Linked DNA regions of Homo sapiens. The protein of the gene in region 3 purifies or fractionates together with the protein of the main gene of each other region. This does not show direct contact. Each region holds a gene or a part of one and is shown on either strand. Other genes may lie near its edges.

The links. The genes of interacting proteins can lie anywhere in the genome.
Region 1: the proteins of DNAJC27 (region 3) and FAIM purify together in Homo sapiens (affinity purification with mass spectrometry; one large-scale study listed by BioGRID and IntAct). This does not show direct contact.
Region 2: the proteins of DNAJC27 (region 3) and ANP32B purify together in Homo sapiens (affinity purification with mass spectrometry, with the first as the bait; one large-scale study listed by BioGRID). This does not show direct contact.
Region 4: the proteins of DNAJC27 (region 3) and ACP1 purify together in Homo sapiens (affinity purification with mass spectrometry, with the first as the bait; one large-scale study listed by BioGRID). This does not show direct contact.

What each region holds. Positions count from the first base shown.
Region 1 is NC_000003.12:138,618,771-138,622,270, forward strand, and holds part of FAIM (fas apoptotic inhibitory molecule 1), read left to right. Parts: intron 1-940; coding exon of another isoform or gene 941-956; coding exon 957-1,000; intron 1,001-2,636; coding exon 2,637-2,769; intron 2,770-3,417; coding exon 3,418-3,500. UniProt on the Homo sapiens protein: Plays a role as an inducible effector molecule that mediates Fas resistance produced by surface Ig engagement in B cells.
Region 2 is NC_000009.12:97,989,841-97,993,340, forward strand, and holds part of ANP32B (acidic leucine-rich nuclear phosphoprotein 32 family member B), read left to right. Parts: exon of another isoform or gene 1-1,854; intron 1,855-3,500. UniProt on the Homo sapiens protein: Multifunctional protein that is involved in the regulation of many processes including cell proliferation, apoptosis, cell cycle progression or transcription.
Region 3 is NC_000002.12:24,961,956-24,965,455, forward strand, and holds part of DNAJC27 (dnaJ homolog subfamily C member 27), read right to left. Parts: intron 1,520-3,500; coding exon 1,450-1,519; intron 1-1,449. UniProt on the Homo sapiens protein: GTPase which can activate the MEK/ERK pathway and induce cell transformation when overexpressed. May act as a nuclear scaffold for MAPK1, probably by association with MAPK1 nuclear export signal leading to enhanced ERK1/ERK2 signaling.
Region 4 is NC_000002.12:271,447-274,946, forward strand, and holds part of ACP1 (low molecular weight phosphotyrosine protein phosphatase), read left to right. Parts: intron 1-419; coding exon 420-493; intron 494-590; coding exon 591-704; coding exon of another isoform or gene 705-859; exon of another isoform or gene 860-1,035; intron 1,036-3,500. UniProt on the Homo sapiens protein: Acts on tyrosine phosphorylated proteins, low-MW aryl phosphates and natural and synthetic acyl phosphates with differences in substrate specificity between isoform 1 and isoform 2.

The DNA of each region.
Region 1 (3,500 bases), on a different chromosome or scaffold from region 3:
CATCTGTAGGAAACAGGCACTAATTAAGGAAAGGGCTAAACTAGGATAGATCTTGGAAGCAAAAAATAGTTGAATTTAGGATACTTTGGCAGGAGTGAAACTGTTAATCCCAAATCTTCAAATGTGAGGGTTTCCTATGCATGTGAATTTATGTGCACTTCTGATTTTAGTACAGCTTAATTAACACTGCAGCCCAGTTACTGTTTAGTTCATTGCATAGTACAGTACTGGGCTCTAGTTCTGGGTTGGATCCTGCCAGTTACATGAGCAAGGCACATAACTTTTGTGGATTCATCATTGGCACTAGTAAATTAAATGGGCTTAAGTAAGGGGATAAATTAAGTTCACTCTTTGAGAGCAGACCAGCATATCCCTGTCTGCTTCTTGCAAACTCATTAGTTCTTTGAAGTTATCTAAACAGATTTTGAAAGTTATGTTCCACCATAGTGTAGCCTTCTAAAATAAAGATTACATTTTAAATTAGTTGCCACTTTAACATTGATGCTCCCAGAAGATACATTGTGTTTATCCTGGAGTTTGATGTATTCCCTGACTCATAGCCTTGGGGCTTCTTACGCTTCAACTTGAAAAGCATAGGACCCAGAGGATCTCTTAGGTCTCTTGCAGCTCTGATATGCTATAACACTTGCAACAAAGGAGAGTTTGTTCTTTAGTTTTGATAAAGTATACCTTTAAGAAATTATAAATCCATAACAGGGAAAAATATGACTGACTGATTTGCATGATGTAACATCTTTCTCTGAGAATTAAAGATTGCAATTCTATTTTATGTAGAAGCTGTTTCATCTGAAACTCCATGTAATTTAATAAATGGATTGCAAAATTAGAAAAACCCTTTGTAGATGTCATCATTGTTGCTTTCAATCTTTCTTTGCTGCAATTCTGCTTTTTTCTTTCCTGGCTGCTAATTGGATTAAAGACTGTTTTTGCCAACCATGGCATCTGGAGATGACAGTCCTATCTTTGAAGATGATGAAAGGTAAATGTCTTATATTGCAGTAAACTAGCCTTTGACATTTTCAAGATTGTTATCATTCAAAAGAGTGATTTATCCAAGATACTCTGTTAAGAATACATTTTGTAAAATTGCAGAATACATGGTTCTGCTTTTGTGTGATTTAAAGCAGGAGTAGTAAATACCTGGCGTGGAGGTAGCCACTAGAAACATGGCATCCATTTCAGTAGAGCCTTGATGTGAGGTCTTCTCATTTCTGTCAGCACAGAGTTCTTGGCAACCACTTCAAAATGATATAAAATCCATTTACCATCTTCAGTTTAGAGCGTACAGAGGAGATTAGGGCGAACAAAGAGGAAGATGTAGTTAAGAGAACAGGCTTTGGAGCCAGAATCCTAGGTTTAAATCCTACCTCTGCCACTTAATGTCATTGTGACCTTAGGTAAACCCTTAGCCTCTCTAAGCCTCATCTGTAAAATAAGGATACTAATAGTAGCCATCTCATGGTGATTCTATGAGTTAATATATTTAAAGCTCTTAGAACAATGACTGATACATAGTTATCACTTAATAGCTGTTAGCTATGATTATTATTACTGTAATAAATGATACTTCTGTCAAAGCTAAAAAGATACACCAATATCAAAATATTAATTAGATATTATGTATTATGTCATTCACATAGGATATATTAACATCAAAAATATATGTTGAAGTATATGCCAGAAATCTCTGACAAACCAAAATCCTTTATTTATTTCTTATTTTTGAGACAGTCTCACTCTTTCACCCGGGCTGGAACGTGGTGGTGCAATCATGGCTCACTGCAGCCTCAACCTCCTGGGCTAAGATGGCTCTCTTACCTCAGCATCCCAAGTAGCTGGGACTCCAGGCATGCGCCATCACGTGTGACTAATATGTTTGTAGAGACAGGGTTTCACCATGTTGTCCAGGCTGGTCTGGAACTCCTGGGCTCAAGTAATCTGCCCACCTCAGTCTCCCAAAGTGCTAGGATTACAGGCATGAGCCCCTGCACCCAGCCCAAAGTCCTTTATTTTTTTAAAATAAGATTTCCTGTAATAATGCCAAGAATATTTTTCATAACATTTAAAAATTATTTTTATCTTTATTATAGGGCATTTCTTCCATGACTTTTTTCTGTCTTAGTATAATAAATTAGAACCTTTTTGTTAAAACAAATCCCTAGTGCGAGTTTAAGTATGGGAGGTTTGGAGAGTTCTTGTTTTAGAGTGATTAGACCTGAAAAAGAGAAATAAAATTAATTACCATGGTTTTTACATGGGAGCTGGTGGGAGAAGAATAAAGACTTTTTACTGACCTTTCCATGCACTATACTGTAGCCTAACCTAGAATACTGACCAGGATAAACTGATGCATTCTTAATCCTATTAATATTAAGGTGGCTTTTTTTTAGAAGTAATCGGACTATGTACCCATATATAGTAGTTGTATCTTAAAGGAAGAGTGAATAAGAGGGAGAAAATAGTTACATGTACTGTGAGTAGAATTTCTTAGGTACTGTCACTTTAATATTTTGACATTTTAGAGGTTTTAATCTAATATTTTCATCTTGGAAGGATTAATTGGTTATTTAATTAGTATTTTGGCCTACTATAATTGCTTTATTTTATTCCTTTAGCCCTCCTTACAGCCTAGAAAAAATGACAGATCTCGTAGCTGTTTGGGATGTTGCTTTAAGTGACGGAGTCCACAAGATCGAATTTGAACATGGGACTACATCAGGCAAACGAGTAGTATATGTAGATGGAAAGGTAGGAAGAAAATATGTTACTTTGTAAAATATGATATATAGAGAAACTTGATTTTGTTAAAGTAGCATCTTCATATGTGAATTCAGGGCTTTTTTTTCTTGTAGTCATGTTTTTGATCTGTATCATTTTGCTGTGTAAAGCAAACATAGTTATAGAATTCATGGAATATAGCGTGTAATATTTAAACTTAAAATGCTTTTATTTTCTAAAACCTTGGCATCATAAATTAATAAAATTACATCTTTTTTTTTTCTTTTTTTTGAGACGGAGTCTCGCTGTGTCACCCAGGCTGGAGTGCAGTGGCGCAGTCTCAGCTCACCACAACCTCCACCTTCTGTGTTTAAGCTATTCTCCTGCCTCAGCCTCTCAAGTAGCTGGGATTACAGGCACCTGCCATTACGCCCTGCTGATTTTTTGTATTTTTAGTAGAGACGGGGTTTCACTGTTGGCCAGGCTGGTCTCAAACTCCTGACCTCATGATCCGCCCGCCTCAGCCTCCCAAAGCGCTGGGATTACAGGCATGAGCCACCACTCCCGGCAATGAAATTATATCTAAATGGCATTGCCTTTGTTCACTTTACGTTATTTCTAAAATTAGATATCAATTTTTCTTCCATTTGTTTCATATTTTTCTGTTTTATTATGTAGGAAGAGATAAGAAAAGAGTGGATGTTCAAATTAGTGGGCAAAGAAACATTCTATGTTGGAGCTGCAAAGACAAAAGCGACCAT
Region 2 (3,500 bases), on a different chromosome or scaffold from region 3:
ATTGTTTTAAACTGAAGAGATTTGAGATTCAACAGATGCAGAGAGAAGCCTACTTGGAGTTTATCTGGCTAAAAGCAAATACATGTCACAAACGAGGGCTGACATAAATTCTCCCTTTGGAGTGAGTCTGTTCCCAGGAGAGAGGCCAAGAGTAAACCTCTGGTAGGGGTTGGAGGGGTAGTCTTTTGGCCCTAAGAAAAGAAAGACCACTCATACCTATGTAGACAGACATTGTAAACTTGATCTCTCATTTGTTCTGAAAATACCATTTGTGTTCCCTAAAGAAATCTGTTCTTCCCAAAAGGTTTTTCTCCTGCTGTCCTTTCCTCTTCTAAGTTAGGTATATAAGCCCTAAATTCTAACTACTCAGTTATCACTGAGTGTGAGTGCACCTGTGTATGTGTGTTGCACATGTAAATACACTTTTTCTGCACCTCAAATGCCACTTTTCTGCCATTGAAACAATATCCGAGCTCAGAATACCTTTCATCAAGGTCCTGTTAAGAACTTTCAACAACCTTGAAGTTGGCTGATGGAACATTTAGACCTGCTATCCTTGGGTACAGCCCTAAGTGGGGCCCTCCAGTGGTCTCTGCTTTATGCAGTAATTCCCATTCTCCTCTGTGCTTATTCCCCAGTGACTCATCTTCTCAGTATGCTTCTGGCGTTCTGTTCTTGGGGTGGCATGTTTCTTTACATTCTCAGCCTTTCTGGAAAAGTCAAGGGACTTGCCTTTTCTGCCTAGCCCAACAACTCTCTGCCCTATTTATCCCAGTATATCTTATTGCCTCTTACTGGTAGAGGCAATTAAAGGTCTCAGGTATTCATTTCCTGAACTTCTCATTCTCACTTAACAAACTCACCTACATCTGTGTCCATCCTAGCCATCTCTCTTGAAGGAGCTGTCCCTCCTCCAACAAGAGTAGAATGATACCTCATTTTTAATATGCACTTTTACTGCTTACAGTTGAACCTTTTTTTTTTTTTTTTTTTTTTTGAGACATAATCTTGCTCTGGTGCCCAGGCTGGAGTGCGGTGGCGCAATCTTGGCTCACTGCAACCCTCCGCCTCGCGGGTTCAAGCATTCTCCTGCCTCATCCTCCCGAGTAGCTGGGACTACAGGTGCACACCACCATGCCCGGCACATTTTTTTGTATTTTTAGTAGAGATGGGGTTTCGCCAGGTTGGCCAGGCTGGTCTCAAACTCCTGACCTCAGGTGATCTGCCCGCCTCAGCCTCCCAAAGTGGTTGGGATTATAGACGTGAGCCACCGTGCCCAGCCAAACTTTTTTTTTTTTTAACTGGGTCTCTGTGGCCCAAGCTGGAGCATAGTGGCATGATAATGGCTCACTGCAACCTGGACCTCCTGGGCTCAAGTGATCCTCCTGCATCAGCCTCTCAAGTAGCTCGGACCACAGGCATGCACCACCATGCCCAGATAATTATTTATTTTTTGTAGAGACAGGGTCTCCCTATGTTGCCCAGGTGACTCTTGGACTCCTGGGCTCAGGTGGTCCTCCCACTTCTGCCTCCCAAAATACTGGGATTGTAGGCACTAGCCACTGCACCTGGCCTTGAACAGTTTTTTTTAGTGTTGGCTATTTGTGTCTTTTAGAGCTTGTCTGTCCTTCGTTAGTGTTTCTGCTGGGGTATTTATTTTTTCCTCACTTAGGGTAAAAAAAATAGAAGATATCCTCAAGAACAAGATAAATGCAAATAGCCAGAATTTCCGTAATCGAGAGGTTACAAAAAGTAACAGTCAAATAAATCAGAAAATAATTTTGTGGCAGTTAAAATGAACTACTCATTTAAAAGAGAAGTTGACATTTTAAATAAAGAACTCTTAACTAATAACACACTCAGATGTTTGTATTCTTTCACTTAGCAATGGATTCTGAAAACACAGTCCTAAATACAGAAGACATTTTAAGTAAAGATATGGCATTATTTATAGTAGGGAAAATTGAGCACAAATGTTCAACACGAAGGATTGTAAAGTGATTTATAATATATCCACACACTGTGCTTTCTTAAAAAATACTCTGTGATCAGAAAGTTGGTCCCTTTTATGTCCAGGTTTTCATCTTAGTCCCCCACAATTGTGACACAAACCTCTGTACAATATTGCTGACAAACCTGTGACCGTTTTTTTCCTCATTCCGCAGTTATGTAGGCTCTTACACAGTGATATAGTGGTAACCAGAATATACATGATCCTGTCATCATGAAGCTTAGTCTAGCGGTGACTTTTTTTTTCTTTTTCTTTTTGAGATGGAGTCTCCTTTTTCACCGAGGCTGGGGTGCAGTGGCACATTCTCAGCTCACTGCAACTTCTGCCTCCCAGGTTCAAGCAATTCTCCTGCCTCAGCCTCCCAAGTTGCTGGGATTACAGGCACACGCCACCATGCCTGGCTTATTTTTGTATTTTTAGTAGAGATGGGGTTTCACTGTGTTGGCCAGGCTGTCTTGAACTCCTGACCTTAGATGATCCGCCCGCCTTGACCTCCCAGGAGTGTTGGGATTACAGGCATGAGCCACCACGCCCAGCCAGCAAAAACATTTTTTAACCTGCATTTGAGTCCTGTGATACTTTCTGATGACGCCTTGCAGTGGTTCAAGTGGAATTTTGCAAGTTGAAAGAAATGTCTTTAAGAGGTGATTTCACTCTGTGAGCTGAGAGGCAGTGTGGCTAACTCTTAATTCTTCTTCACTTCACTTTTGGCATATTGGTGTATTTTGTATAACGTTTTTGGATTATTTTGGATAAAATTATAGAAACTCTCCCAAGCTAAATGGGAACATTTTAATTGTATTGCAGTATACTGTTTACATTGGTGGGTGATGACAGTCGACCTTTTTAAAATTTTAATGGTTCGTTGGTTTTATGTTTAGTTGCTTTTTAATACAGAATAAATACATGGTTGTAAAAAACTTAGTACAGATATAAGTAAAGTAAACAGCAAAGGTCACTGACATTTCCCATTCCCTTTACCCAGAGGTTACTTTCTGGGCATTTATAATGTTCCAAGCCCTAGTCTCTACAACTTCATGAGGTAGGTACTATTATCTCCACTTTATGGGAAACTGAGGCACAGAGAAGTTAAGTGACTCGCACAAGGTCGCACAAGTTCTGAGTGGCAGAGGTGAACCAGGATTCAACCCCCGGCATATGTCTCCAGAGCCCAGCTTTTGTCAGAGTTGACCTATTAAGTTTTCAGATGTGCCCATTTCTTATCAGAAAAGGGAAGAATGGCAGAGATACCTAAAGAAAAGTGGAAGGAAGGAAGAAGTAAGTGGATGTAAAGAGTAAAAAGGATGCCTGGCTTCTGAAGAGGAAGTAGACAGGGTAGTGAGAAGCGGTTAGGCACTTACTATGTTGTGGGCATTGCTGACTTGAAATCTGTTTCCTTCTCTGTAAATGGGGGAAGGAGAGTGGTGGTAAAAAGAATAAATGATTAAGTACTCTATAATTGATAGCAATTACTAGAGTAGCATCATTG
Region 3 (3,500 bases):
TCTAATGTGGGTGAAAATGCTGTCAAATAGCATTGCATGGTACAGAGAAATCTTTCATGAAAGGAAGAGTCAATCAATGTGCCAAACTTTATTGTTGTCTTATTTTAAGAAACTGCCACATCAACCACCACCCTCATCAGTCAGCAGCCATCATCACCGAGGCAGCCTCTGATCACAATGGAATCAAACTAGAAATCAGTAACAGAAGGATTAACAGGAAAATCTCCTAACACTTGGAAACTAAACAACATACTTTTTTTCTTTTGTTTTTTTTTGTGTTTTTTGTTTGTTTGTTTGTTTTTGAATAACACACTCTCTTTTTTGAGATGGAGTTTCACTCTTTCACCCAGGCTGGAGTGAAGTGGCACGATTTTGGATCCCTGCAACCTCCGCCTGTTCAAGCGATTCTCCTACCTCAGCCTCCCAGGAAGCTGGGATTACAGGGATGTGCCACCACACCCGGCTGATTTTTGTGTTTTTAGTAGAGACAGGGTTTCCCCATGTTGGCCAGGCTGGTCTCGAATTCCTGACCTCAGGTGATCCACCCTTCTCGGCCTCCCAAAGTGCTGGGATTACAGACGTGAGCTACTGCTCCCGGCCTGAATAACACACTTCTAAATAACTCATACATCAAACAGAAAGTCTCAAGGGAAATTAAAGAAATACATTGAACTGAATGAAAATGAAAATACAACATCTCAGAATTTGTGGGACACACAGTTGTGCTGAGAGGGAAATATGTAGCATTAAATGAATTTATTAAAAAAGGAAAAAGTCTCAAATCAATAATCTAAGATCCCACCTCAAGAATCTAAAACAAAAAGAGCAAAATAAGCTTAAAGCAAGCAGAGAGAAGGAAATGATAAAGATTAAGGCAGAAGTGAAACGGCCAAACCAGAAAAGAGCAAAAAACCTCCTTAAGAAAAATGAAAAAGCCCAAGGAAGGAAAAACAAAAGAGAATGGTCATGAGATTCATTTGGTGATTACTTAGAGCTGGTAAGCAGATGAAAATAAATCAAGTAGTTGCTTTAGCTTCTTCTCTGGAAAGAATGCAGATGACTAGGCATGAATAGGAACGATCACCCCAGTACCCTGCTGTGAAAGAAGTCGCATCACTGAGTTCTTAAGCCCAAGCATAAATGTAATTATTTTTTTTTTCACATTTTAGGCTAAAGTATGAGGTAAAAAGCAAAAGTCCTCTGAAAGTCAAAATGTCTTATTGAAATGTTTGAAATATTGGCAATGAAATTTCCTACCACTATTTAACAGGATAACCTAAAAGATCAACAGTTGTCTATTAACTCAAGGCTCTGAAGGCAAGCCACGATCAAGCTAAAATTATGCAATTTTACACATGATATCAATATTGGTTGTTTCATATAATTCTGGATCTCTCCCCAAACCACCAACAATACTGGATATAGGTTTTGTCAAAAAGGCTTTCTTACCTCATAGAAGAAGGGATGTCCAGCCATATCAAAGATGTTAACTTTGATTTCTCTGTCTCTGACGTGTACCCTGAAATGTTCAAATGGAAACAATCCGAAAGAAAGTCATGGTTTCTCCATTTACCTTAATATCATTTATAAATTTCAAAAGGATATGTGTATGCAATTTAAGAAGCTTTCTTAGTGCCTCTTCCTCATTCCAGATCATCTTTACAATAGCAGTCAGCAACCTGACAGATGATCCTGCCTTCTTATCCCAAGAACACTGAACCCACATGGAGTAGGCATTCTCAATTACTTCACTTTCACCTTCACTTCTAGAAACTTTGGTCCACAGCTCCCAACCAACAAAGGGTAGCTATTACTATGGTATTAAGAAAAATTGATTTGGGATAAGTAGGAGCAAGATGAAGGAAAATGAAAAGTTTTATTTCACTTAGTAAGAGACATCTTAATTACCACTGGTTATATTTGGTTATCACACAGCAGAATAACAACGATGTATATTAATGACGTCTGTTTAATTTTCTTGTGATCTTTATTTGAGCAAGAGCAATAGTGAATTTGTTTTCAGATATTTGGAAATAAAGAATAAAACCAAAGGGGAAACAATAACCATTCATATTAGAATTAACTACTGTTAACATCATAGCATATTTGTTCCTAGTCTTTTTTTTCATGAAAAATCACCATTGGAAAATGATAAAGGAACATTAGAAATAATTCAAACACTAGGCCGGACACGGTGGCTCACGCCTGTAATCCCAGCACTGTGGGAGGCCGAGATGGGCGGATCATGAGGTCAGGAGATCGAGACCATCCTGGCTAACATAGTGAAACCCCGTCCCTACTAAAAAAATAAAAAAAATTAGCCGGGCGTGGTGGTGGGCACCTGTAGTCCCAGCTACTCAGGAGGCTGAGGCAGGAGAATGGCATGAACCCGGGAGGTGGAGCTTGCAGTGAGCCGAGATCACGCCACTGCACTCCAACCTGGGCGACTGAGTAAGACTCCGTCTCAAAAAAAAAAAAAAAAGAAAAATAAATAATTCAAACACAAAAGAAAAACACAAAGATGAATGTTTAAAAGTTATTCCAGGCCAACAGGTAGAGAGGGAGAGAGATGTAGTGAAATGACCTATCTATATTCCCTATGATTCCAGCCATCTCTGAGGCCCAGCTGCATCCTTGTTGCTAGATTATGTGAACTGATTAATATCCATTTTCTTTTATTTTGCTTAAGTTGGTTTGAAATAGGTTTCTGTCAATTATATCCTCCTGACTCATCATGGGACAAACATCTCTTCCAAAAAAATTTCTGCCAGAAACAAAATAGTCTGTTGACTATACCATGGTCCTTTGGCATAATATGGTAATTCTCACATCTTAGATAAATAAACTAGCTACTTATATGAATTCAGAACAAAACTATCTTAAATAGGATGTCCTACTATATCACTGATGAAATCCTATGCTTTGAAGCAGGAAAGAGGAAAAGAAAACTAGAAAGAAAGGTAAATTTCAGGCTGGACGCGGTGGCTCACACCTGTAATCCGAACACTTTGGGAGGCCGAGGTGGACGGATCACGAGGTCAGGAGTTTGAGACCAGCCTGGCCAACATGGTGAAACCCTGTCTCTACTAAGAATACAAAAATTAGCTGGGCGTGGTGACATGTGCCTGTAATCCCAGCTACTTGGGAGGCTGAGGCAGGAGAATCGCTTAAACCCGGGAGGCGGAAGTTGCAGCAAGCTGAGGTTGCAGTGAGCCAAGATCGCGCCACTGCACTCCAGCCTGAGCGACAAGAGCGAAACTCTGTCTCAGGGAAAAGAAAAAAAAAAGAATGTGAATTTCATTTTTATTTTTATTTATTTTTGAGGAGTCTCACTCTGTTGCCCAGGCTGGAGTGCAGTGGCATAATCTTGGCTCACTGCAACCTCCGCCTCCGGGGTTCAAGTGATTCTCCCACCTCAGCCTCCCAAGTAGTTGGGATTATAGGCAACTGCCACCACGTCCGGCTAATTTTTGTATTTTTAGTAGAGATAGGGTTTCACC
Region 4 (3,500 bases), about 25 Mb from region 3:
TGAACCAGCTCCTGAGTCTACTGAGGGACAGACCACTGTATTTTATTTTTATTCTGTTGTATTTCATTTTAAAATAAGCTGGTTGCAACCCACTTCATTTTCGTGATTCACTCCTGGATCATTAGTAGCAACTCTTTAAACAATAATTTTTGTTGAAATTGTTTTTCTGATATCTTTGTCATCTGTACTTGGAGTACTTGGCTGGTTGGTGTCAAATCACTGAACTTGAGCCTGATAGGCTGTTCTCCAGCAGGGTCTACCCTCACTGGTTGGACAAAGGCGTCAAAGGATAGTGTTGGCCTTTGTTTTTCCTGAGGGATAGCACAGCCCCCGTGTGTCAGGTGTGTAAAGAAGGGGAGCTGGCATGTGCCCTTCCATCCAACCTAACCCTGTTTCCCCACCCCTCCCTTTTTTTAAAGGTAACATTTGTCGATCACCCATTGCAGAAGCAGTTTTCAGGAAACTTGTAACCGATCAAAACATCTCAGAGAATGTAAGTACCATTCATTATCTTAAAGAGGCCAACCTGAACTCCTCTGGGCAGGAAATTGCAAAAAAAAAAAAAAAATTCCATGTTTCTTCCCCTGCAGTGGAGGGTAGACAGCGCGGCAACTTCCGGGTATGAGATAGGGAACCCCCCTGACTACCGAGGGCAGAGCTGCATGAAGAGGCACGGCATTCCCATGAGCCACGTTGCCCGGCAGGTACCGTCCTTGGACTTGAAGTTGTGTGTTTTGTGTTTCAGTGGGTCATTGACAGCGGTGCTGTTTCTGACTGGAACGTGGGCCGGTCCCCAGACCCAAGAGCTGTGAGCTGCCTAAGAAATCATGGCATTCACACAGCCCATAAAGCAAGACAGGTAGACAAGCTCTTGTTCAATTTCTAATATATAGAGTCCAGTAACTTGAGAAGTAGCGAAAGGATTAACCAGACTTGTATATTAATGAATGTGTTTATTTAGGGTGAGCTTAACCAGCTATGGTGTGTCCATTTTGTTTCACTTCTGGTTGCACGGTGTTGAAAGACTTGCCTGACTTTGGAATTTACTTATTAAAATGCACATAAAAGCTAGGTAATTTATAATGAGAGAGCCTGACTGTGAGCTGGGGCTGAGCGGTGCTCTGTCTTCTGTTCCTTCCTGCATAATTTTTATTAAACATTTAGGCCATAGTAATCATCCTGCTGATATTGCAAGTTTGTTGCTAGAATGAGGTTATATAATATATACAAAAACATTTTTTCAACTGTAAAGTGCCTTAGTAATATAGGGTAATACCAGCAACATTATGGATATATAATTATAGTCTATTGGGCCACACTTAAGTTTGGAGTCTAATAAAGTCACAATCAAATTCTGCAATTTCAATTGAAGATAACCTTGTCTTTATATTATGAATTAGAAGCTAAAGTTGATTTTTCTAAGAGTTCTTTATTTAAATGAAGTACTCTGGGACTGACCTTTTCGGAAATGGAATCTTCATTGGTCAGGTGATTCAACATTTTTATACAATTTATCCATCCTCATCTCTTCAGGATTTGCATACCTTGCCAGTTTCTACTGGCCATTGTTGAAAATACATTTATTTGGAGAAGTCCAAAGCCAAGGGGCTCATGGGGCTGTGAAGTCCTTCTTGCTGCATCGTCCTGTGGTAGAAGGTGGAGGAGTCAAGAGAGTGCCCCAGAGTGAGTGAGAGCGAGAACTAGAAAAACGGGAAGAGGGAAACAGAGGAGAGAGAGAGAGAGGACCCATCAGTGTCAGGAGCCCACTCCCAAGATAGTGGCATTAATAAAGATCCTGCGTCTCACTATTGTTGCATTGGGGATGAAGTTTCCAACAAAGGAACTTTGGGGGACACATCCAAACCATAACATAGGATTTAAATAATTTTACAGAGTTCAAGAGTTCTGCTACTGAACCGTTTGAGATCCCTGTTCTGAGGTCTCATCACTTTCCAGTTTTAGCAGGAAGAGAAGTGGCAAGTGGCAGGAGTCTGCAGATTGGGGCCTGCACCTTTTTTTGAGGCACCTTTTTTATGAACAGTGTTTGTTGGAACACAGCCAGACTCACTCATTCACCTGTAGTTCGCGGCTGCTTTTGTGCTAGAGCAGCACAGCCAGAGCGGCCTGGTGGCCACAAAGCCCGACTGTCTCTGCAGCACTGGTTTTTTATATGGCGTTTCTAGTTGTTTTTAGTAGTAGGGGTGATTTGCCACAAGCTGTTTCATTTATAGCTGCAAGTGGAAATCCTTTATTGTGCATTTGTTACATAAGTTATAGCTGTTTCTTTCTCAATTATTGTAACATCTAAAAATTATGTAACAGTTACTAAGTCTTTTTTTATGAAAAATTTACAATTAGTCCAGAATTTAAAACAAGTTTAGTATTAAATCCTAGGGAATTTCTCACATAACTAATTTGGAGAAATAATATAATACTGTTCAGGCATGGTGGCTCACACTTATAATCCTAATAACACTTTGGGAGGCTCAACATTGCTTGAGCCTAGGAGGTCAAGACCAGCCTGAGCAACATAGTGAGACCCATCTCTACCAAAAAAATTTTAAAAATTAGCTGGGTGCTATGACATATGCCTGTAGTCCCAGCTGTTTGGGAGGCTGAGGTAGGAGGTTGGCTTGAACTCAAGAAGTTGAGGCTGCAGTGAGCTATGATCACACCACTGTACCCCAGTGTTGGTGACAGAGTGAGACCTTTTCTCTAAAAACAAAAAGAAAAAATTCAGTATTGTACTTATTCTCAATTTTGAAATAAGTCAATGTCATGGGAGTGTTGACGAAATACAGTCTTTTCTAGCTACTGGAAGTGCATACTAAAAGCCAAAGTTTCTCATTTTTTAGAAGAACAGGTATACACTTTCCACCTTTGTTCCGCAGTACGTATGTTTATGTTTCTTATTCTGCCATTATTTATAGTAGTCGAAATTCACAAAATAATCTTTTCATTTGTATTTTAAGTAGGTGTGTTTATAGATTATATCAGAAAACAATCATAAGCTTTCAGGTTACAATCAGTAGAAATACTGAGTGGCATTCTCTTCTGTGTGAGGTTTAAATTATGGATAGTCAATCAAAATAAAGGAGGACTGTCAGTTATCACTCCTGTGTTTCTTTCTTAGTGACCACCTCTGACCACCCAACTTAATACTTTTACTCCTCCCTGCCCCAAAGCTGTATGTATCTCCTCTCTGCTTTATTTCCTCCAGGGCATCTGTGCCTCCTGTGTGTTGCCTGCCCCCATGTGGAAGGGCAGCTCCATGGGACGCGGCTCTGTCCACTTAGCTTGGTGTTTGTTACTGGGGCCCAGGATGTTCAGTGCTTGTGGAATGAAAAATAGAGTAGAATAATGAAGGGGATTAAATATGTGACATTTTAGTATGTTGACTGTATTATACACTGCTACTAAGGAATTGAAGCCGATGTATAAACATTGTGTCTACACATTATACTATTTTATGATTATTGTATGGAACTTTATAATACAAA